Linked DNA regions of Homo sapiens: all the other regions are linked to region 3. Evidence: fine-mapped expression QTL. A gene starts in region 3. Each other region holds a variant in brackets. All regions are shown on one strand. Distances are between the middles of the regions.

Region 1 (8,185 bases), 780 kb after region 3:
TGGATTTATTTCCGATTCCTTCACAATTTCATGGATAGAAAATTCACTTACCATAGATTTTAGCAACCTCAGCATATATTTTTTTCTTATTAAATCAAGAAATTTCACTTTTTCATTTAAAAGAAGCACTTATGGCTTCTATTTGGCATATCTGAATTGCCAGCATCATTACTCTAGTGCTATGGGGCCATTATCAAGTAAAATAAGGGTGACTTGAACAGGAATACTGCAGTGCCAGGACAGGAGGTGTGATTGTCGAGACAGACATTCGGTGACTCACAGGCGTGTGTGGTACGTGGCGTGGATCTGCTGCCGTGTGTGGTACGTGGCGTGGATCTGCTGCCGTGTGTGGTACGTGGTGTGGATCTGCTGGGCATAGGGATGATTTATGTCCTGGGTTGGACAGGATGGGATGGTGTGAGATTTCATCGGGCTGCTCAGAACAGCACACAGTGTAAAGCATGTGAATTGTTTATTTCAGGAATTTTCCATTTAATATTTATAGATATTTGGCAGACCACGCAGAAGGAAACCATGCAAAGCAAAACTCTGGACGGGAAGGACTGCTGTAGCAATAAGGCATGGACATGCCCTGTGCAAAGTTAGTGGCAAGAGCCATTCTTAAACCGGGGAAAGAAGGCGCTATTGTTACATGTAGTTATCACTGGAACCAAAGGTGGATGGGGGACTGTGATAGAAAACGTGGGTCTGGTTTTGGTTCTGCTGATAGATAACTGCGAGATATTTCCTGTATCTTTGAATTTTTATGGCTTTAATTACTTTGTTTTTAAAATGAGGATATCAGAGAAGATGGAGAAAGATTTTCCAAGACTGACTTATTTACACAAAACAGTGATAAAATCTTAAGGAATTATAGGTAGCTACCTAAGGGCATAGGAGAATGATAAAATTATAAACTTCGATGGGGAGTGCACACTTAGAAGAGGAGGGTACCAAGGTCCTCTTTAAGGGCATTTAACCCTGTGCTAAGGGCAGTTGACATGTATGAGTTGGCAAGACAACTAACAGAAAACTTACTGAGGCCTTTCTGCCTAGAAAAACCTGAAAATGGATATTGGGGAATGCATGAGTTCTAGAGAGAGTGGTGAAATCCTGTACATAAAAGATACAGACAGAGTTCCCAAACTCTCCAAAAGTTGTCAGTGACTGATCATGGAAAAATGCATGGGTGAAAAAACTCAAGGCAGTTCAATTAAAGCTGGAATATCTAAATTGAGACTAGAGCCGCCACCTAAGGTTTTTCAGTTCAAGTTCAGTTAAGATTATCATTCATAAAACCAAATAATCAACAGGCATAAGATGAAAAGAACAAAAGTAAATCCTCCCAATTTAACCACCACAATGTCTAAGATACAATCCAAAATTATCTGGCATGTAAAGAACTAACACAATAGAATATATTTTCCGTAGAAAATAAAATGGACCTAAATTCAGATGTTGAAATAAGGCAGACAAGGATTTTAAAGAGGTTATTCTAATTTGTATTTAATGAAGTAAAAGAAACTGTGCTTTCAATGAATGAATAGGAAATCTCAACACAGTAATAGAACTGGAAAAATGCAGAGTCTGACTTAGAAAATAAGAAAATTATTAGATAGATTTAGCAGCCAAAGGGAGGTGATAGAGAAAAAAAAATGTGCGGAATACATAGTACTGTCTCAGCCAAAATAGTGATATGAAATGTTCCAGAAATGTGGTAAATGTGGTTAAAGGTTAGTTTGTGGTGGGACTCAGGCAGAATAATTTTAGGAAAAAATATATATGAAGATTCACGATCTAGAAATCCATTTCCATAATATCACCCATATCACCTCCCTTTGTGAACCTCACGTACATTTTTAAACATAGATTTAGATAGGGGTGGGCGTAGTATGTCCTAGAAGGCAGGTCCCATCTGTAGGCTGTTGCTGTACAGCCCTCAGGCTAAGAATTCTTTTTACATTGTTAAGTCCTATCTATTTATTTAATGTGACAGTTAATACGCAGACAACAAAACCTAAATTATTGACTATGTGGCCCTTTAAAAAATGACTTTGATAATATCCAGCACCTTTTGGTTATAAAACTCTTCGTTTTTGGAGAATAGACAATTCCAAAGGTTATATGTATTCAGAATAGAAATGCTGAAAAATTTTCGTCATATAAGAGAGGACCCGGGGTATAGGGTAAGAGGAAAAGCGAGCTGAGCTGTGGCTCCGAGATGCCTCTGTATTCACGGCGAGATTGTCGTGGGGGTCTGACCAATAATGCCGGGAGGAGATGCTGCAATCAGAGTCTTCCATGTGAGGGAAGAGATCCAAATTCCCCGGGAGGAGGCTTGGGTAATGCTGGCAATGAGGTGACTCAGTGCACTGCATGGCCTTTTTGGTAGGAAGATCAATGCAGGTTCATATTTTCAGTGATAATTCGAATGCACACAAATAACAAACTACTTAAGAAGCTTTTTGGTTTACTTATCATTTGTATGGCTAGATCATTCCCTGGCTCTTATTAGCACAGAATAAAATGGTTTTCAAAAAAATAAATAAATGGTCAGAAGTCAATCAACTGGCATCAAAGTATTAATATTCAATAACAGATAGTTATCTTTCATAATCCTATTTTATTTATTATTATTATTTTGAAACAGAGTTTTGCTCTTATTACATAGGCTGGGGTGCAATGGAGAGATCTGGGCTCACTACAACCTCCCCCCTCTCCGGGTTCAAGCGATTCTCCTGCCTCAGCCTCTTGAGTAGCTGGGATTACAGTCACCCGCCACCACACCTGGCTAATTTTTGGTATTTTTAGTAGAGATGGGGTTTCACCATGTTAGCCAGGCTGGTCTGGAACACCTGACATCAGGTAATCCACCTGCCTCAGTCTCCCAAAAGGCTGGGATTACAGGGGTGAGCCACTGTGCCCAGCCACAATCCTATTTTATATGTAGCAAAATTTAAAGGGATATTTACAATGTCTAATAGTTCTTAGTTCTCATAAACCAAGTGTGTTACAGTCTACCTTTATTACATTTTCCATTTGCTTTTGATATGCAGGGACTACAGATTGTGAATGGAAAAATATCTTTTTGTCATCTTTATCGAATCACGGTTTGCAACTATTTTGTATGCCCCTGTAGATTTGATGACCCCCTTATTTGGAAGAATGCTTTTGGCGAATTGATTGGTTTGATGTGATAGTCTCTGTGATTTTAATAGAGTTATTTAGGAACCTGTTTTGTTTAATTTCATCTACTGAATATTGCCTAACACCAAGTATAGGGGCACACATATGTAATTTAACCAAAGATAAATGTTTGACGACCTAAAATATTGCAACAAAAAATTGTAATTAATTGCTTAATATAAATTACAATTAATTTGACATTGAAAATATTTTAAGTTATTTTTGCAATTGGTAGAGGACACTGATGACTTTTACTTTCTCTTCATTGACAATGAGGTCCAATGTGGCTAAGACTGTGACTTCGTTTTGCTGATATACTTTGCACAAATATTCCATTCAGAAACACTTGCTAACATACTTGAAAATATTCTTTTCAAAGATATTTTAAGCTAGGACTGGTGTGGTGGCTCATGCCTGTAATTCCAGCACTTTGGGAGGCTGAGGCAGGCGTATCACTTGAGTTCAGGATTTCAAGACCAGCCCGGGCAACATGGCGAAACCCCCTCTCTATAAACAAAAAGAAAAAAAATAAGATATGTTAAACTTGACCTTCATGGAAGACAGTGAATAATTATGACATTTTAATTCTCTAGACTGCATTATAGTATATTTTAATTGCATTCTTTGAGTTCATTTAGAACTCAAAATTGAATGTCTAGAAACTGGTCAAGGGATAGAGGAAATACCTTTTTTTATTTATTTATTTATTTTTATTTTTTTGGAGGCAAAGTCTCCCTCTATCGCCCAGGCTGGAGTGCAGTGGTGCGATCTCGGCTCACTGCAACCTTCTCCTAGCTGGTTCAAGCAATTCTCCTGCCTCAGCCTCCTGAGTAGCTGGGACTACAGGCGCCCGCCATCATGTCCGGCCAATTTTTTTGTATTTTTTAGTAGAGACTGGGTTTCACCATGTAGCCGAGGCTGGTTTTGAACTCCTGAGCTCAGGCAATCCACCCGCCTCGGCCTCCCAAAGTGCTAGCATTACAGGCATGAGCCACCGTGCCTGACCTCCATTCCTACTTCTTTATATTGTAATGTGAGAATTTGAGATTCATTATTAACCAAAGAATTCAGTAAAATGCTTTCCTTGGGCACGTTAGCAGCATCCATGGTAGCAACCACACCAACAATGTCATACACCAGACTGCAGCTCAAGGGAAGCCATGTCCTTGCACTTGATCACAAGTCCCAGCAGCTTTCTTAACTTCCAAAGACTGAACTTGGGACATCTGGAGCTCAAGCAGCAATTTTCATTAAAAAATTTAACAGAGAGCTCTTCCGTAGATATGCCAGTTCTTGGTCTTGCACGCATTCATTTGTTGTAGATTAGGAATGTGTATATTATATGCACTTAAGAAAAAAATCTAAAGAAAAATACATTCTCAAGCGGAATCAGAGAGGGTTTCCTGAGTAGATTCTCGTTATTAAAATTGCCACATGCAGATTATATAATTTATATGCAT[G/A]TATCAAAAGTATAATTTACTATCACGGTGGAATGCCTCAAAACTTTAAAAAGTATGACTTTGAAGAGAATGAAAGGAGTTTTGACTCTGCAGAAAATAACATGAATAATTCGACAGAAGCTGTAAATTACTCCCATTTTTCACTGAGCTTTTGCATTAAAATAGGCAAATTAGATTCTACACTTTTTCCCCTACACAGATGGAAAATATGACCACTAAATTCATATCGTTTTAACTAGTGTCATCCCCCAGTGATTAAGATGTGCCTTCTTCAAGCATCAAAACACAGGCTGAAACGTGGAGTTTCCAGAGAGAAGATTTTTCCTGGTCTCATAAACAAAAATGACTGTAACTTCTGTAATAAGAACACATCATGACAAATATGTCTTTTCAAAGGTAATGGCAGACCCAGGGAAGCATTGCAAGAAAGGAACATCAAAATGTGTGAAAATCATGCTGCATCTTTTTTATTTCTGGGAAATAATAATCTGCAAAAAATAATAACAACTTTAAGCTTAACTATTGGTATCATTTTAAAACAAATTCAAAAAATAACACCGCTAGTCCAAGTGGTTCCTGTGCTATTTGAAAATAGACATCGCAGGCAGAGCAGGTGCTGGTGCAGGCTGGGTTGCCAGCCCGGCCCACGTGGGTGCGAGGGCATCCTGTCTCCATGGCTCAACGGAGGCGCCTCCAGCTAAAAGGACAGCCAGGGAATGCACCATGGACAGGTCAGTGAGTCCCAAGGCAGAGTGCAAGGGAAGCTTCAAAAAGTATACCACTGAACTACTTTCTGCCTTGCAATCAGAAAGACAGACATCTCAGACCTCATCCTGTGTTTCAAGGTGGCGGTTTGGGAAGGGACTGGTTCATTCGAAGCTGTCTGCCACGGGGGCTTCTGGGGGACAGACACTGAGAGGTTCACTTCACATGGAGAATCTGGGCCTTTGTGCAGCCACTCACCAGCTGCGGACTCTTCGCCAAGCTGCTCAGCCTGGTCGTGCCTCAGTTGCTTCCTCTGTAAAACAGGAGCAATGATGGTGCTTGCCTCTTAGGTTTGTCTTGAGAAGCACATTAAGCTGATTTTTGCCGCTCCACAGTTAACAGCAGAGCCTGACAGATGGAAGGATGAGGTGGGCTATTTAGGCTACATGTGTTTGCTAAAGAAACTAAACAGACTCCACAGAAGAGCCATTTGCACCCCTCTGTCTTAAACACCCTTATGGGACGTATATCCTACCCTCTGTCAGAAACCAGTATCAAGATTTCTCAATATGAAACACAGTGCCAGGGCCAGAAGTCAGAAATAAGGCTGAAATTGGGCGGGCACGGTGGCTCATGCCTGTGATCCCAGCATTTTGGGAGGCTGAGGTGGGTGGATCACGAGGTCTAGAGTTCAAGACAAGCCTGGAAAATATGGTGAAACCCCGTCTCTACTGAAAATACAAAAATTAGCTGGGCATGGTGGTGGGCGCCTGTAATCCCAACTACTTGGGAGGCTGAGGCAGGGAACCGCTTGAACCCAGGAGGTAGAACTTGCAGTGAGCCAAGATCATGCGCCACTGCACTCCAGCATGGGAGAAAGAGCAAGACACTGTTTCAAAGAAAAAAATAATAAAGAAAGAAATAAAAAATAATAAAATAATAAATAAATAAAAACACCAAGACTGAGATTTCTTAACTATTTTAGGGCCATTCATTTTAACACTGTCTCTCCAAACTTTTCAAGGAGCACAGTAAGTTTCGGGCACAACCCCTTTGTGCCCCATTATAATCTATGAGGAATTTAATAAAATTCTATTTATTTGGTTCTACTATAATGAAAATTAACATTTTTTATTTACACGAGGCTTCGTTAAATTTAATCACATCATATAGCTATTTCAAGAAGATTCTCTATAAATACACACATATAAGCCCTCAGTACCATCCAACTAAGAATATCTACTGGATTACTGGATTTCTTTCTTTCTTTTTTTTTTTTCTGGAATTGGGGTCAACATTTCATTCCATAAAATAGGATGTGTGTTCCTGACAACTGAATGGTTTCTGTTTTCCCATTGTTTGTTTGCATTCTTTGTGTTATTTCTTGGCACGTGGAAAACAGAAGAATAAAAGGAAATTTTCAAGGTTTAAAAACAGTTATTGAAAGGAAAATGTAGAGTAGAAAGTGTTTCCACACTTGAGTTGATCAAAGGAAAAGTCAGGATTGGGAGGGAAATGGAAAGGCATGAAGAGGAGAGAGAGCTGTCACGTATTCCATGCGCAAGTCAGCAGCATTCATGGAACAACCACACCACTTGGGGAGGGAGGTGGAGAGAAGAGGAGTGGCTCTGGCTGAATGAGTCTGGGCGTGTGCAGAAACGGACAGGAAGGGGCACCCTGGCAGGCAACACCAGTGCTCGGGAAGGGCATGAAGACTTAATGTGGCTACTGGGGCTGTCGACAGAAGTTTATTCATGAGATTAGTTAGTTAAATCAATGAGAATCAGTGACTTCTTCCAGGGCTAGCAGAGGTAAAGGAGAAGTCAATATATTAAATGAGCCACAACCATATCACCAAATGCAAACAGAGCGGGCATGGCTGTGGTAATGAGACAAACACTAATATGCAGCTGAGATTCCAAAATATTTTCTCTGTGTTGAACAAGCAGTAGTGATGGTGGGTAGGGGGGCCATCCGGAGTGATCTTGAGCCTGGATGGATGCACCCAGGCTCAGCCTTAATGAGTAGGTGGCCTGCAGGATGAGGCACAGGAAGCTTGGAATGATTCTGTAAACAGAAATTCTTCATAGTGAGAGAAATAGCATGAGCCTCATAAGGGCAACTTTCAACCAAAATAGGGTGTCGGCTGTGGTTACCTTGAATGCTTTCAAACGACCATTAAACATTTTACCATATTCAGGAGGGTTTCCATTTTTTGGCATAGTTAAGGAGTTGCATTAAAACAAAGAAAGGAAGAAAAAGGAACTTCCAATTTGTTAATAGGTTTATTTCAGTACCAAAACTTTCTTTAACAGCCATTTGATTAGCTTCATAGAATTATATTTTATAATTAAATGTACCTATACTAAGTGTAGAGTGAGGGGACATTCTAATGAATATTCATATCCATATAACCACATGTCAATCAAGAAATAAAACATTTCCATAATTTCAAAATGTTCTCATGCCCCTTCTCCCAGCTCCTGCGCAAATACTGATCAGCTTTCTGGTACTGTATTTGAGCTTTTTGTCTTTTCTAGGATTTCTATATAGATAGTATCATTGAGCATGTTTTACTTCATGCCTAACTTGTATTATTCAGCATAAGATTTTGGTATGACCTTTGTCATTGTGTATTGGTGGTGTGTTTACTTTATTGTAGAGCAGTAATCCAGTCCCTAGATAATCATTTACATAGTATTCTTTCTGAAATGTGCTGAATTTTACTTGAGTACCTAAAATGTGCTTGCCATATTCTGTATCTTCAGAATATGCAAAATAAATAAATAAATAAATAAATAAACAAACAAACCTCTAAAGCAGGCCAGGCACAG
Region 2 (8,185 bases), 35 kb after region 3:
CAGGGCCATCTCCTGCCCAGCCCCGAGCCTCCCTGATAGTCCTCCCACCCACCCAGCTCCGGATGATGCTCCCACTCACAAGATTGCTGCTTTTTCCATAGACCGGTAGGAACTCCAGGCCTTTTCTCCAGCTGTCCCTGAATTCTCCTTGTTTCCTTCCTTCCTAACTTCCTCCATCCAAGGCTGGAGGCCCCAGTTTGGAAATCAGGACCCACGTCCCCCTCCACACCTTCCTATTTGTGTAGTTCTGTTTCGAGTCTGGACTCAGTAAATCTCTCTGTCCTCCTGGACCAGGTGTTGGCGCACTGGGGCTGCCGTGGAAACTGCCCTGGATGTTTCCCAGTCATTACAGATCCCAAGACACTCCTAGGTCCCAGATCCCCAGATCTGGAGGAAAGGGGCCCCTTCTGCCAGGCTTCCTCCCTGGGTCACAAACTCACATCTGCCTGGACTCCCACTGCTGTCTCTCTCTTTCTCTCTCTCTCCCCTCTTTTTAACTGTCCACTAGGTTTTATGGATAACTCCTGAGAGAATGTCCCAGTCTGCTTACCATCACATTGATCCCGCCCACCAGCATTGAGGCTCTGCACTGTCTCCCCTCCCTTGCCTGTCCAAAGCCCCTTCCACCCGGGACCGTCGCCCCTTTACACTCAGGGGTACTGGTCCATCTATGCCATGCTGAGAGCTGCTGCCATGAAAAGACCCCTGGATCTCACCCCCTCCAGCAGCTACCTCTTCTCTTTCTAGAGAAACCACCTAGAAGGACTTCCTACACACACCAGCCCCACCTCCTCTTTCCTGTTGTCTCTTAGGCCCAAGGCCCACCACAGTGCCCTTTGCCCCCCACAGTCACCCCTGCCAGGGCACCGGCGGCCAGCACTTGCTCCACCAACCCTTCCTCCAGAAGAGCTTTTTTGGGAGGGATCCTGGAGCCCGATCCTGGTCCCCCTCCCATCATCCTAACCTCCTCCTGTCTTTCTTCTCCATCTGTAGGATCTTCCCAGGCAAAGTCACCTGTAAATCACATCCATACCCAAGAAGCTCCCAAAATCTCACTTCCAGCCCAGACCTGAATACTGGGTCAGCTGACACCTTATCTGGAGCATCACACACTTTCTACAGCCTCAGGCCACCCACACCAGGGCTTTGCTTTCCCCCACAAGGTGCTCTTCTTCCTGTTACCTCCATCTCGGTACAGGGGGCTGCTCTCCTTCCAGGTGTTGCAGTCAAAACTTTTGGGATTTTTCTTGATTCCTCTTTCTCTTCAAACCCACTTCCCATCCCGAGGCCCGTCCTGTTGACCTAGCCTGTTCATAATAAAGCCCTGCGCCCTTTCCTCCTCCTCTAGTGGTTGGATGAGTGTTCGTGTACCAGTCACTAATTTGATCCCAGAGTCTCCACTAGAGACAGGAGATGCCTCTGCACACACTGACACACACCGAGTGTCACAGCAATTCCACTGGTGGGAGACAGACACCCCGGAGCATTTCAACAATCGCTTTTCTCTGTTGAAGTTTTCTTCTGCCCCATTCACTGTCTCCTCTGACCACACAATTTGGTTTTGCCTCTTTCTCCATGTCGAAGGCTTCCTTGTGTCTGGTGGTCTTCGACTATTTATTTCTCAGCATGAGGCACTGAGAAAGGATGTGGAACCCCGGGTGTGCGTGTGTGTGTGTGTGTGTGTGTCTGTGGCATAAGGAGGTTTGCCTGTGGGACCGGGGATAACCAGGGAGGCGCGTGGGTCTCATACTGAGGAACTCTTGAATCACGCAGATTTTTCTCATGGGTGTGTTTCCCTGAAAGGAATTCTGGGGTCCCTGGGGTGCGGGGCGGAAGGATCTGTCATGCTGTCCCCTGGGGTGCGGAGCGGAAGGATCTGTGATGCTGTCCCCTGGGGTGTGCGGCGAGAGGATCTGTCATGCTGTCCCCTGGGGTGTGCGGCGAGAGGATCTGTCATGCTGTCCCCTGGGGTGTGCGGCGAGAGGATCTGTCATGCTGTCCCCTGGGGTGCGGGGCGGAAGGATCTGTCATGCTGTCCCCTGGGGTGCGGGGCGAGAGGATCTGTCATGCTGTCCCCTGGGGTGTGCGGCGAGAGGATCTGTCATGCTGTCCCCTGGGGTGCGGGGCGGAAGGATCTGTCATGCTGTCCCCTGGGGTGCGGGGCGGAAGGATCTGTCATGCTGTCCCCTGGGGTGCGGGGCGAGAGGATCTGTCATGCTGTCCCCTGGGGTGTGCGGCGAGAGGATCTGTCATGCTGTCCCCTGGGGTGTGCGGCGAGAGGATCTGTCATGCTGTCCCCTGGGGTGTGCGGCGAGAGGATCTGTCATGCTGTCCCCTGGGGTGTGAGGCGGAAGGATCTGTCATTCTGTCCCCTGGGGTGCGGAGCGGAAGGATCTGTCATGCTGTCCCCTGGGGTGCGGAGCGGAAGGATCTGTCATTCGACTGCCACAACTCTTGGATCCAAGTAGGCAAAGGCCACTGTTCTTTCACTCCTCCTGCTTCCCATTGCTGCCTCAGGATCTCCATGACAGTGTCTTCTGGCCGATTCCTCCTGGGCCCTCCGAGCTGGGCTGGGGCTGCCACCTGCCCTCCTGGGTGTGGAGCAGGACCTGGTGATCCTGTGCCTCCTGCTTTCAGCCTCGCCTGATGTCCCCTTTCAGAGATGCCTGAAAGGCTCTCCCTGTAGCTCCGGTAGCCTCCTCTGGTTGGCCTCACCGGTGCCCATTCGTCCATCATCTGTCCATCTGCCTCCAGCCCTCAGACTTTGCCATGGCCCTCTGCCTTTCACTGTCTTGGCACTGGACCATTGTATTCCTCCTCCTGCTCCTCCTTCTTCTTCTCCTCCTCCTCCTCCTTCTTCTTCTCCTCCTCCTCCTTCTTCTCCTCCTCCTCCCCCTCCCCCCTCCCCCTCCCCCTCCCCGTCCCCCTCCTCCTCCTCCCCCTCCTTCTCCTCCCCCTCCTCCTCCTCCTCCTCCAATTCTTGTTCTTCTTCTTCTTCTTCTTCCTCTTCCTCTTCCTCTTCCTCTTCCTCTTCTTCTTCTTCTTCTTCTTCTTCTTCTTTTTCTTCTAAATGGAGACAGGGTCTCACCATGTTGCCCAGGCTGGCCTTGAATTCCTGGCCTTGAACAATCCTTTTGTCTCGGCCTCCCAAAGAGCTGGGATTACAGGTGTGAGCCACTACACCCGGCCATGCCTTCTATCTTCTTTCTCTACTTTCAACACTTAAATATTTTTAGCCAGGTTTCAGCAGGAAATGGATGGACATGAGGGCTCTGTCTGCCTGTTGGACCAGAAGCCCTTGCATCTGATCTAAACAAACCCCTTCTTGCCTTTGTTAGGGTTTCTGCTTGGTTTTATTCACAAAATTGACGTCTCAACTCTAATATTTATGTTCTTGTCACAGACAACTGTGATAGACTAATCAGTTACCTAATTGTCCTAAACCCAATCTTTTAATAAAATCTGGTTTCTTAGGACCTGGAGCGACAGGTTTGCGAGAAAGCTCCTCCCTGGATGAGGCCAAGAGCGTGGGAGTGAGTTCCAGGCTCCCAGAAGTGGGAAGTATTTTGGAAGTATTTTGGATTTAGGCGGTAAAGAATTCCCTATAAAAATAGCTGAACAGATTGGCCTCATATCACTGTGGGACTTTCTTGGAACATGAGGTGAGGTTATGGGTTGGCTTGCAAATAAAACCAAACACATTTCCCAATGAGGGAATGGGGCTGTGGTTAGGATGGGATCCGTGGGGGTTCTGGGGTGCTGGCAGGGCTCTGCTTGTGATCTGGTTACATAGCTATTTGCTTTATAATCATTTAGTAAATGTGTGATTTGTGAATTCTTCTGCATATGTTTTATTTCACAATAAAATGTCAACTTTTTTTTAACAACTAAGCAAAGTTAAGAACAATGCAGTGTAATTTCCTCGGAAATACGCTTTGACAGTTATTTAATTGGGCAAGTGGAAAATTACTTTTTATGAAGATGGTTTCTGCATATCATGAAAATGCCGTGTGCTGAACCATGCAGTAAGTGAAAGCGTCTAGATAAGGGCAGCCATTTGTTCTTCCCGATAAGGCACTCTCTACTGTTTTCTCTGGAATCAAACTGGCACGCCTGATGACTGGTGTTTTTATAAATCAGTGAGTATTTACATGTCTCAAACAGGCAAGTTTAAAACCACAAAGTCAGGGGCATGTTAAAAATTTGACTTCGGGTCTTAACGATCCACTGATCTTTTCATTTCTTCATTTTGGGTCCGGCTGCTTTGCATGAGGATGTTTTTCTCCCGTCTCTTATTGCCTGGCTTACAGGAGAGTTGGGTGATAGGAACACAAGGAGCAGAGAACGCACTGGCCTCTGACAGCCGCTCTGTGCAGATTCAGTCCTTCAGCCACCCGCAGGAATTGCCGCCAGAGTAGGACATGTCTTCTACCCTCTTGGAAGTGATGAAACCACCTTTCAGAAATTACAGCAGTGAGAAAACTATGACGTTGAAAGATACCTGATCTAACCAACCCCCATCCTGCCTTTGACCTCCAAACTGTCTTTCATCACTCCTAGGCCTGGGCCAAACTAATTTTGGAAGATATTTATAGTTTAAACGATAATAGCCCTTCTCCCGAACTGAACTGCCTGTGTAAAGCTAATGAAAGGCCAGTAGGTTAGGAGGATGAGAGGAGCCTGGATTCTGCTAAAATATAGATGTAAACGACGACCAGCCATTACTCTGGAGGTCACAAGATTTGCAGCTTCTGCAGATAAACATCACTATTGTAGAACCTAAGATTGGCCGTTTGAGATGTCCTTTCAAGTTTTTGCATTTCTGATGTCCGACTGATCCTGTGGCCCCACTCAGAAGCGGACTCCCTGGCCTGCTAAACTACCCTTGAAATACAGTAGCCTCCAAATTTTCAGGGAAATTGATTTAAGTAATGGTCAGGCCTCTGAGCCCAAGCCAAGCCATCGCATCCCCTGTGACTTGCACGTATATGCCCAGATGGCCTGAAGTAACTGAAGAATCACAAAAGAAGTGAATAT[G/A]CCCTGCCCCACCTTAACTGATGACATTCCACCACAAAAGAAGTGTAAATGGCTGGTCCTTGCCTTAAGTGATGACATTACTTTGTGAAAGTCCTTTTCCTGGCTCATCCTGGCTCAAAAAGCTCCCCCACTGAGCATCTTGCGACCCCCACTCCTGCCCGCCAGAGAACAAACCCCCTTTGTCTGTAATTTTCCTTTACCTACGCAAATCCTATAAAACGGTCCCACCCTTATCTCCCTTCGCTGACTCTCTTTTCGGACTCAGCCCGCCTGCACCCAGGTGAAATAAACAGCCATTTTGCTCACACAAAGCCTGTTTGGTGGTCTCTTCACACGGACGCGCATGAAAGGAATAACTCCATCTCCCACGTGGCGTGGCTGGCCTCGTGTCAGTTAAACTTTCTTTATTGCAACACCATGGTTTCAGTGAATTGGTTTTCTCTGTGCAGTGGGCAGGAGTTTTAATTTCTTAATTTTGTAGCCAGCCTTCAGGCGGTGACAGTGATTGGACAATCACTTTAGTAGCATGAGATACTGAGGCTACTGCACTCGGATGGAATGGGCAGGAAACATGACTTGAATGCACCATGGACTCTACACCAGCATCTGTCCCCTGCAAAAGGGGCTCTGGGAACTAGAACAGTCATTCCCACCTTCTGAGCGCATTAGATCACTGCAGGGAGCATTGGAACGTGCTTTCCTGGGCCGCTCTGGGCCCAGGCTCCCATGTGAGCATCCGTTTTAAACCAAAAATAAAATTCCGAAAACCAAAAGCCCCCCATCCAACTGAATGGACCCCTACTCTTGGCCAAGAGGATTCCAAACAAACCTGAAAAACAAGTCAGGCCGGACGGGAAGGGGAGGGTCTGATACGCCTCATTGTATCCTCTCCCTTTGGGGTCAGGAACAGCCGATGGCATTAACATTAACACAGAGACCTTCGGACTGACCAGACAGGCTCTGGAAGTGATAGGAACAAGGCCTAGGGTGCAGGAGGAGCCTCGAGGGCTCAGCTGGGCTAGCCTGGGTGGAGGGGCCACAAGAAACCCCTGAAATGACAGAGGTCAAGTTTCATGGCCAGAAAGACTGGAGTCAGAGTGAGGAAGGGGGATGCAGTGGCCAGCCTTTGCTGGGAGCTGCCTCTGTGGCCACACCCAAAACTCCTCCCCCTGCATCGGCCACTCCAGTCCTTACGGTGGAACCACAGGCTCTTGTGAAAGGAAGATAAATCTCGAGACCCCAAGTCACTAAGCCAAAGGGAAGAATCAAGCTGGGAACTGCATCAGGGAATCCCGCCTCCCATTTTACTTAAAACTGCAGATGCAGGCTGGGCATAGTTGTTCACACCTGTAAGACCAGCACTTTAGGAAACTGAGGCAGGAGGATTGCTTGAGTCCAGGAGTTTGAGACCATCCTGGGCCATGTAGCCAGGCCCTGTCTCTAAAAAATAAGAAAAAAATGCAGATTCACTAAGCCAGACTAAGGCAAGAGTGACTGTTCCTCTACCCCCCTTTCACATGTAAATTGTGTATTTGGTGAAAGAAGGGCTAATCCCAGACTCAAAAGAATGCAACTGTTTGTCTCTTATCTGCCTGTGACCTGGAAGCCCCCACTTTGAGTTGTCCCATCTTTCCAGACCAAACCAATGTGCATCTTACACCTACTGATTGATGTCTCACGTCTCCCTAAAATGTATAAAACCAAGCTGTGCCCCGACCACCCTGGGCACATGTGGTCAGGACCTCCTGAGGCTGTGTCACGGGCTCATCCTTAACCTTGGCAAGTAATATGGTTAGCCTTGTGTCCCCACCCAAATCTCATCTTGAATTGCAGTCCCCAGGGACACAGCTGGCCGGAGGTGACTGGATCATGGGGGCGGTTCTCCCCATGCTGTTCTCGCGATAGTGAATAACTCTCACGAGATCTGATTTTTTTTTTTTTTTTTTTGCGACAGAGTTTTGTTGCCAAGGCTGGAGTGCAGTGGCGTGATCTTGGCTCACTGCAACCTCCACCTCCCGGGTTCAAGCGATTCTCCTGCCTCAGCCTCCCGAGTAGCTGGGATTACAGGTGCCTGCCACCACACCTGGTTAATTTTTGTATTTTTAGTAGAGATGGGTTTTCACCATGTTGGCCAGGCTGGTCTCGAACACCTGACCTCAGGTGATCCACCCTCCTCGGCCTCCCAAAGTGCAGGGGTTACAGGCGTGAGCCACTTCGCCCAGCGATCTGATGGTTTTATAAAGGGCAGTTGCCCCAGGCTCTCTCACACTCGCTGTCCTGCTGCCTTGTGAAGAAGGTGCCTGCTTCCCTCTTGCCTTCCGCCATGATTTTAAGTTTCCTGAGGCCTCCCCTGCCATATGGAACTGTGAGTCAGTTCAACCATTTTCCTTTGTAAACTACCCAGTCTCGGCTATTTCTTTATAGCAGTGTGAAAGTGAACCCACACGGCAAAATAAACTTTCTAAATGGATGGAGACCTGTCTCAGATACTTTTGAGTTCACACTTTCATCTGTGGGCTGTGGTGTAATAGCATCTTTTCAAGCCTCCCTGTGGAGGTGGGATCTTTTGGAGTGATTATTTATTTTTCTACGATGTGTAGCTTAATTTATGGTCTATGTACATTTTCCCCTTTGCAGCAGCTAACCTTCACTCATTTACTATAGTGATTTTTAGAATTTTTACTGTTTGTCAATAACTTCCTTTGCAAAGTGTTCCTGCTTTCTGGCATGACTTTTTTATTTTATTTATTTATCTTTTTTAGACAGAGTCTCGCTCTGTCACCAGGCTGGAGTGCAGTGGCATGATCTTGGCTCACTGCAACCTCTGCCTCCCGGGTTCAAGTGATTCTCCTGCCTTAGCCTCCCAAGAAGCTGGGACTACAGGCACACGCCACCAGGCCCAGCTAATTTTTGTATTTTTAGTAGAGACGGGGTTTCACCATGTTGGTCAGGCTGGTCTCGATCTCTTGACCTCATGGTCTGCCTGCCTTGGCCTCCCAAAGTGCTGGGATGACAGGTGTGAGCCATGGCGCCTGGTGTGATTTTTCTGTAACTACATCCTACTTATTCTGGACTAATGAGAAAATAGCAAGGGTGTCCATCTTCATCAACACTGCCTTGTTTGGACAGTTTGGTACAGGCTTCAAGG
Region 3 (8,150 bases):
TATCCAAACAGGTGAACTGCATAGAGAAAGAATAATCCACACAGAGCTGGCTGTGCGGGAGACCAGAGTTTTATTATTACTCAAATCAATTTCCCCAAGAATTCGGAGTTCAGAGTTTTTGCTGTTGTTTTTGAGATGGAGTCTTGCTCTGTTGCCCAGGCTGGAGTGCAGTGGTGCGATTTCAGCACACTGCAACCTCCGCCTTCAGGGTTCAAGCAATTCTCCTGCCTCAGGCTCCCAAGTAGTTGGCATTACAGGCGTGCACCACCACGCCTGGCTAATTTTTGTATTTTTAGTAGAGACGGGGTTTTGCCATGTTGGCCAGGCTGGTCTTGAACTTCTGACCTCAAGTGATCCGCCTGCCTCGGCCTCCCAGAGTCCTGGGATTACAGGTGTGAGCCACCGTGCCCAGCCCTGGAGTTCAGAGTTTTTAAGGATAATTTGGTAGGTAGGGGGCCAGTAAGCTGGGAGCACTGAGGGGTCAGATCAGAGATGAAATCGTATGGATCAAAGCTGTCCTCTTGGCCTGAGCCGGTTGCTGAGTGCGGGCCACAAGATCAGATGAGCCAGTTTATCCATCTGGATGGTCCCAGCTAATTCAGCAAGTGCAAGGTCTGCAAAATATCTCAAGCACTGTTGTTAGGTTTTTCAATAGTGATGTTATCCCCAGGAGCAATTTAGGGAGGGTCAGAATCTTGTAATCTCCAGCTGCATGAATTCTAAACCATAATTTCTAATCTTGTGGCTAATTTGTTAGTCCTACAAAGGCAGTCTAGTCTCCAGACAAGAAAAGGATTTGTTTCGGGAAACCATAAACTAAGTTTCTTCCAAAGTTAGTTTGGCCTACACCCAGGAATGAACAAGGACAGTTTGGAGGTTAAAAGTAGGATGGAGTTGGTTAGGTCAGATCTCTCACTGTCTCAGTTATAATTTTGCAATGGTGGTTTCACTGGTTTTAAGATGGAGTTTATTTTATTTTATTTTTATTTTTTTGAGACAGAGTTTCATTCTTGTTGCCCAGGCTAGAGTGCCATGGCGTGATCTCAGCTCACTGCAACCTCTGCCTCCTGGGTTCAAGCAATTCTGCTTCAGCCTCCTGAGTAGCTGAGATTACAGGTGCCCACCACCACACCCGGCTAATTTTTTTCTCCCAAACTGCTGGGATTACAGGCTTGAGCCACCGCGCCCGCCAAGATGGGTTGTTGATTTTAAAACGATGTCACCCTGGCTCTCCTAGGTTCCTGTTCCCCTAACATCATGAAGGCTGCTGGCAGTTCTCTGGCCTCCAGGGAGGCCTCCACACACATTTACCCATGTTCTTAGACAATCCTAGGGACTCAAGGCTTCAACAAACCTAAATGAGCCAGCAGAAAAATAAACTTGAACATGAATGTCAACGTTTTCCCACATGTACTAAAGGGTTATAATAATTTTGAAATGTTTATTTCAAAGAGCGTTGGTAATTTAAACGTCCTATTTAATCCCCAAAACAGTCCTGAGGGGGAGATAAGGCAGTTATCTTCATAGTACAGGAAAGGAAAAAAGCGAGGGTCCAAGGCCGACTATACCCTCAGCTCCATTAGCCCCCGAGGCCTCCCTGACAGGCGGGGCGGACAATCCCAGTGCAGATGCTCTGTATCGATCGCATGCTATCGGTTCTTTCAAGGAACGTGTATTGATCATCAATTAAGTGGTGAGTACTCCTCTAGATGTCGATTCTAAAGAGGGAACAAAACACATTAGACAGAAGAAACATAAGTAACTCGAATAACAACCTTAGAGAGAAGAAACATAAGTAACTCGAATAACAACCTTAGCAAACTGCGGAAACTCCTACAGACAAAAACTCAGGTGTGGGCGCAGAAGGGCCGGGGATGCGCTCGGTCAAGACTTGAAGGTCCGGGGCTTGGGCCCTGTGTCCTCACCGAGCCCCGGGGAGGCTCCGGCTCCGTCCACACCCGGAGCGCGACTCAGCCGCGGCCGGGGCTCTTCTGGAGAACGGCGCGGTCAGGCTCTGCCGCAGCTTTCAGGTCCCCTCGGCCCCGTCCGGGTGCAGCGCAACCAGGCTGCCCGCGGAGCCCCACCGCCCCCATGCCGCCGCCCGCCATGGTTCAGCCCGGCCCCGCCCCTCCCGCCGGCCGTGGTTCAGCGCGTCCACCCCGCCGCCCCACAGCGCCCGCCGCGCCGCGCCCCGCCCCCCGCCGCGCCCCGCCCCCCGCCGCGCCCCGCCCCCCGCCGCGCCCCGCCCCCCGCCGCGCCCCGCCCCCCGCCGCGCCCCGCCCCCCGCCGCGCCCCGCCCCCCGCCGCGCCCCGCCCCCCGCCGCGCCCCGCCCCCCGCCGCGCCCCGCCCCCCGCCGCGCCCCGCCCCCCGCCGCGCCCCGCCCCCCGCCGCGCCCCGCCCCCCGCGCCGCGCCCCGCCCCCCGCCGCGCCCCTCCCGCGCCCGCCGCCCCGCCCCTCCCGCGCCCGCCGCCGTCGTAGCGCCTAGGCGGGGCCTCTCGTAGCGACGCCCCCAGGGGGGCAGAACGCGTGCGCACGCGCGTGCGAACGCGCGTGCGCGGGCGGTGTTTGAGGCCGGCCAGTCGTGACTGGGCGGCAATGAGGTCAGTGACTGCCGGGAGTCCTGCAGGGGCGGGGCGGCGCCAAGCGCAGGGAGCCCGGCTGAGTGGCAGCCCAGGTGAGCGCTCAGGGAGCCCGGGTGAGGGCCGGGAACCCAGGTGAGGGGCAGCCCAGGTGAGCGCGCGGGGTGCCCGGGTTAGGGGCCGGGAACCCAGGTGAGGGGCAGCCCAGGTGAGCGCGCGTGGAGCCCAGGCGAGGGGGCTGGGAAGCCCGGGTGAGGGGACCGGGGATCCCAGGTGAGGGGCCGGGAACTCAGCTGAGGGGGAACCCAGATGGGCGCGCGGGAGCCCACGTGAGGGGGAGCCCGGGTGAGGGGCCGGGGTGGCTCCTGGCGTCCGCGGTCCCAGCCCTGCCTTCCGGTGGGCGTGCGGCACCCCGGGCCGTGCGGTTCCCGGACAGCAGCTTGTGGGGGACTTTCGAGCCCCGCAGCCCGGGGTCCTGCCTGCGCGGGTTGGGCGTGGGGGGCTCCTCACCGCGACGCTGACTTTGGAGTCCTTGAGCGGCGCGGATGCCGGACGGAGGGAGGGGACAGGCGGAGGCGGAGGCGGCGCCGTCGCCCCTGACCTCGCTTCCCTCAGACCGGCTGGGCAAGTACGGTCAGCTCACCTGTGTGCCCACGAGGCGGGGAGGCGGCTCCTGCAGAGCCACAGAGGTGCCGTCGGAGCTGCTGTCAAGGACAGCAGGTGTCACGTGGGTGTGGCCTCCACTGGTCACCGAGTTAGCTGGGGCGGAAGGGGACAAGGTGCAGCTCAACATGGTGTGGGAGGCGGAGGGACGCTGGGTCAGTCAGAACCTGTAGGAGCGGGGAGGGACGCTGGGTAAGGTCACCAAAGTGTGCGGGGGAGAGAGCGGGCGCTGGGTCAGGTCAGCAGGAGGTGGGACCCGCCTGGGCTCTGGGCCCTATAGCCAGCTGCTCTAGGTTGGGGTTGGGTGTGGACAGTAGGGAGGGGAGCCAGGGGCTCCCCAGCCTGTGTAGATTCTGCTGTAAGTGACTCTTCTCTGAAAGACTGGCGCGAGGCGGCTGCTTCTGACTCCTGTTTCAGTTTACCCTCTGTGTGAAATCTGTAACTATCCAGCTTCTGCTTACCTCACTCCCGTATTTTGATTTTTATTTACATACAACTTTTCAGGAAGGTTGTGAGAGGAAAGAGCAATGGTGCAGGAAGTGTGAGTGATTGAGGGAATATGAGATGGCCACAGCTCCCCACTGAGCTTGAACACTTCTGTGCCTCACTTTCAGATTGGCCGTCATGGAGGCTGTGGTTGTTAAGGAAGTTCTTCCTGAGCATCCAGTTTCCATACAAAGAGCACAGGTTCTCTAGGTGGCCTCAGAGATGTTCAATACACAATGTCTTCTGATAACGAGGAACTGGGCAAAAGCCTGGTAGGACACCGGGTAGGTAAATGGTGGAGTCCCTGCAACCGTGTTGCAGAGGAGGATTAGCTGTTGCTGAGAGAAGAGAAGCAGGCCGGGGAGCAGCTTGTATACTGTTATCCCCTTTTATGTAAAAAGAAGAGTTTATATCTAGAAAAACAATTGACCCAGCAGGCACCAAAAAATAGTGATGGTGCTTGGAGCTGTGTAAGAGGATTGTAAATTTTTATTTTTGTATTTTTATGCTTGTTTATATTTTCTGAATTTTGTGTATTAAACATGTATTTCTGTTGATTTTGGAAAACATTTTTACAACCCATCAATGTATAATTTTCAAAATGTTAGAAGTATAATTCTCATGTAAATAGCTCTTGTCAGGTTATATTTCAGTCATTAATGCAGTATACAGCAGGATAGGAATGTCAGTTCAAAAGAGAATACACAAAACTAGGATTTTCTTAGTGAGTGGGTAACAGGAATGCTGAGAGAAGATTGCCAGATTAGATAATAAGATTGGTGAATATCCTGTGTGCATTGAAACCACAGCCTTTGGGATTGTCTTTTCTTCTTGATGGAAAGGAGAATTAGCTTTGCAGATTGTAAAATGCGTGACCCACAATCAGTGGTAAATAGTTTAGTTATTTCTCCTAGAAAGTCAAGTGATTGTTGGGGTTGTAAAACACTGAACTTGCGTTAGCAGGGAAAAAAGCATGCAACCTTTTTTTTCCCTTTTGACGTCACTTCCAAGTTTGGATAAATTATCTCAATGAAAAACAAAAATGCTGGTATCCATAGCAGTTTAGCCCCCATAAACCGGAGGAGCGCATAGATGCATGACAGAGTCGAAGGGTTCCAGTGGCCACTGAGCCTGGTTCCTGGTCACACTGCAGCAACAGAGCTAACACTCTTACTGATGTGTTTGCATTCAGATTTTTAAAAAACTTCATGGCCCAGTGCAATAGAAGAGCTGAAACCACAGAATCTTATAAGACAAGCTTTTTGTATACATTTTCTCCAAAGAAAATGAAGATCTGCAGCGTCAAGAGATGGTGGCCTTCCAGGAGTTGTTTATTCTCCGGCTCCACTTCCTCTACTGCAGAGAGGAAAGGGGCTGGTGTGGAAGGGCTTGGAAGCCTTCCAGAATGAAAGAACCAGATGAGTCCATTAGGTTCGGCCTCCAGTTTTTTGTTTTTTTTTTTTTTTTTGAGACGGAGCCTCACTCTGTCACCCAGGCTGGAGTGCAGTGGCGCTATCTCAGCTCACTGCACGTTCCGCCTTCCAGGTTCCCGCCATTCTCCTGCCTCAGCCTCCCGAGTAGCTGGGACTACAGGCGCTCGCCATCACGCCTGGCTATTTTTTTTTTGTATTTTAGTAGAGACAAGGTTTCACCATGTTAGCCAGGATGGTCTCGATCTCCTGACCTCGTGATCCTCCCACCTTGGGCTCCCAAAGTGCTGGGATTACAGGTGTGAGCCACCCTGCCCGGCCGATTCGGCCTCCAGTTTTACCCATGGAAGGAACAGTGACTTCCAGCTGTGCATTACACTTAAGGACTCCTTCATGTGGCCTGAGCCTTATGGTGCACAGCAAGGGAACAGTGGGAACCCCTGTGTCCCATTTTGCGTATCAAGAGTGAGAGGGTGTGGTTGGGTCAAGGAGCAGAAATAGAAGCAAAAGGAGAAGCTGAGCTCTTCCCATACCCCTTCTGTGCTGCCTGACAGAACAAGGCCTAGCCACACTTCTGTGGGTGCCCACCTTGTGACTTGGGGTGAACCACAGCTGTTCTCAGTACAACGCTGATGCCACGAAAGGACAGCAGAGCTCTGCAGGACTCCAGGAAGACTGGGCGCTTGGGCTGGATCCTGCCTCTGGGACTGGCCTTCTACCCTCATGGCTGAGAGAGCTGAGGAGTTCACCTCCTTTGTGAACTCCTGGCTGGAGGATGCTGGTTGGCATTAACTAAACTCAGAGACCCACAGTAACGAGTTAGACTAGAACAGCACCAGCTTACCCAGAAAGTCAGGAGGTTTGAGCAAAGAATCAGAATGGGGGATTCACTACAGGACTGGAAGGGGAAGTAAGCATTCTGGTCTTTATAATCTGCTGTTTCTGCATCCCTAATTGGCACCTGTTCTCTGACTGCCAGGAGGGTTTGCCCACTCAGCTGTGGCTTACCTGTTTCTGTTTCCATGTCTTTCACCTATCTGCCACTTTTCTGTAGATATGGTAATCTCTCCAAAAAGATATCTAGAAAGCTTGAAGACCTGGTAGCTATTTGCTCTTATGGTGAAGATCACACAAACTAGTTGAACATCTGGCTTGTAGTAGGTGCTTCATTTCCCGCTGCTCTGTATGTTTCTTTCTTTTTTTTTTTTTTTTTTTTTTTTGAGACGGGGTCTCATCTTGTCACCCAGGCTGGAGTGCAGTGGCGCAATCTCAGCTCACTGCCACCTCCACCTCCCGGGTTCAAGCGATTCTCCTGCCTCAGCCTCCCAAGTAGCTGGGATCACAGGCATGTACCACCACGCCCAGCTAATTTTTTGTATCTCTAATAGAGTCGAGGTTTGACCATGTTGGCCAGGCTGGTCTCGAACTTCTGACCTTGTGATGCACCTGCCTTGGCATCCCAAAGTGCTGGGATTACAGGCGTGCGCCACTGCACTCGGCCTGCTCTGTGTATTTCTTTTTCCTGTAGTCAGATTCTGGGGTCCAGGGTGGTTAGGAAAGAAACTTGTTTTCTTTCTTTCTTTTTTTTTTTGAGATGGAGTTTTGCTCTGTTGCCCAGGTTGAAGTGCAGTTGTGTGATCTCGGCTCACTGCAACCTCCACCCTCCTGGGTTCCAGAAATTCTCCTGCCTCAGCCTCCTGAGTAGCTCAAATTACAGGTGCGCACCACCACGCCTGGCTGATTTTTGTATTTTTAGTAGAGGCAGGGTTTTGCCGTGTTGGCCAGGTTGGTCTTGAACTCCTGACCTCAAGTGATTCACCCACCTTGGCTTCCCAAAGTGCTGGGATTACAGGTGTGAGCCACCACACCCAGCCTGAAACTTGGTTTCTTAGCTCCTAAATAGTGAAATCAAGATCAGAGCCCACTAAGCCAGCCGCTCTTCTTGGTTTTTGGTTCTCATGTCCTGGAGTCCCTCTCACCTTGACCAAACCAAAGACCTCCTGAAGCATCACTTGGGCTCACCACTTCCACTGAGGTGGATTTGAGTCATTGATCTGGGCAGAGCCTTCTGGAGTCGGGGTTTCTCTCGTCTCAAGGCAGAGGTCCTACAGAAGTTAGTGGTCTTGGCCAAGCGGACATTGATGCAACTGTGGCAAAATGGGACCTATAAGTCAGAGCTGATGACCTACTCGTGGAAAAGTACAGGGAGAAGTTTTACGAGGGGTCCATATTTTAACCTTTAACAGTGTTGTTCACGTTAACCCTTGTAATGGATGCTATTCCTTGCCTGATACCTGTCCTTTCCACCCAGCCTGCTTTTCTTTAATGCTGGTAAGCGGTCTCCCCTCCAGGCATTAGGCTGCACTTGAAGTTGATCTGCTCCTGTGAAGTGCATAGGGGTTCAACGATGCCTTGCTGCACACTGAATACCAGAGCCGAGTGCTCTTGCCAGCCCCTTAATACCATGTTCAACCTGATTTGTCAACAGGTTAACAGAAATGTGTTTGGAGATGTGTAAGTACACTGGAGTCTTGATATATAGCATGACCAGAAGTGTGGGTCACGAGGGCACACATGGGCATGGCAGCCCCTCAGTTGTCATCCATAGCATCTATCAGAGAGCACGCCTGTGTGCCCTGAACTCACGCACCAGGGGCAGCATGACACGGGAGCCGTTTCTCTAGGGAGAAACATGAGTACCAGTGCTGTCTTTCCCCACATCAGATTTGTGTTCAAACAGAGCTAGTCTGTGTTAAAGCTGGAGTGTTAATGGAGAAACAGACAAACTCTTGTACTATTTTGCCTTTGATTATAGACCATTATCAAAGCAAGAGGTTAGGAGTGATCAGTGCTCCCTTGTCATTTGCATCAGGTCCCAGGACTCACATTCTTTGCATGCTTGTGTGAGCTAGTGTTTTCCATGTCCTTGGGGTGTGGTCACAGCGACCTTTTTGCCTGAATAATGATTGGCAAGTTTTTGCTGAATGGCCA

What was found.
Region 1: its variant is fine-mapped to the expression of CLN8-AS1 in aorta (GTEx, PIP 0.97).
Region 2: its variant is fine-mapped to the expression of CLN8-AS1 in sigmoid colon (GTEx, PIP above 0.99). The same link has a PIP of 0.9 or more in transverse colon.

The regions. Positions count from the first base shown.
Region 1 is chr8:2,544,509-2,552,693 of GRCh38, forward strand. The region is part of intron 5 of LINC03021 (long intergenic non-protein coding RNA 3021); the gene reads right to left. Among named protein-coding and RNA genes, the nearest start is that of LINC03021, 180 kb to the right of the region's middle. The variant G/A (reference allele first, on the strand shown) is at 4,647.
Region 2 is chr8:1,796,364-1,804,548 of GRCh38, forward strand. It overlaps MIR3674 (microRNA 3674), which reads left to right and starts at 4,762; the gene lies at 4,762-4,829. RefSeq lists enhancers at 3,693-4,892, 4,726-5,387, 6,048-6,708. The variant G/A (reference allele first, on the strand shown) is at 5,038.
Region 3 is chr8:1,761,211-1,769,360 of GRCh38, forward strand. CLN8-AS1 (CLN8 antisense RNA 1) reads right to left here and starts at 3,374. Exons shown (of 2, transcript NR_134303.1): 1 at 3,224-3,374; 2 at 753-1,718. It overlaps CLN8 (CLN8 transmembrane ER and ERGIC protein), which reads left to right and starts at 2,579. Exons shown (of 3, transcript NM_018941.4): 1 at 2,579-2,675. RefSeq lists an enhancer at 7,933-8,150.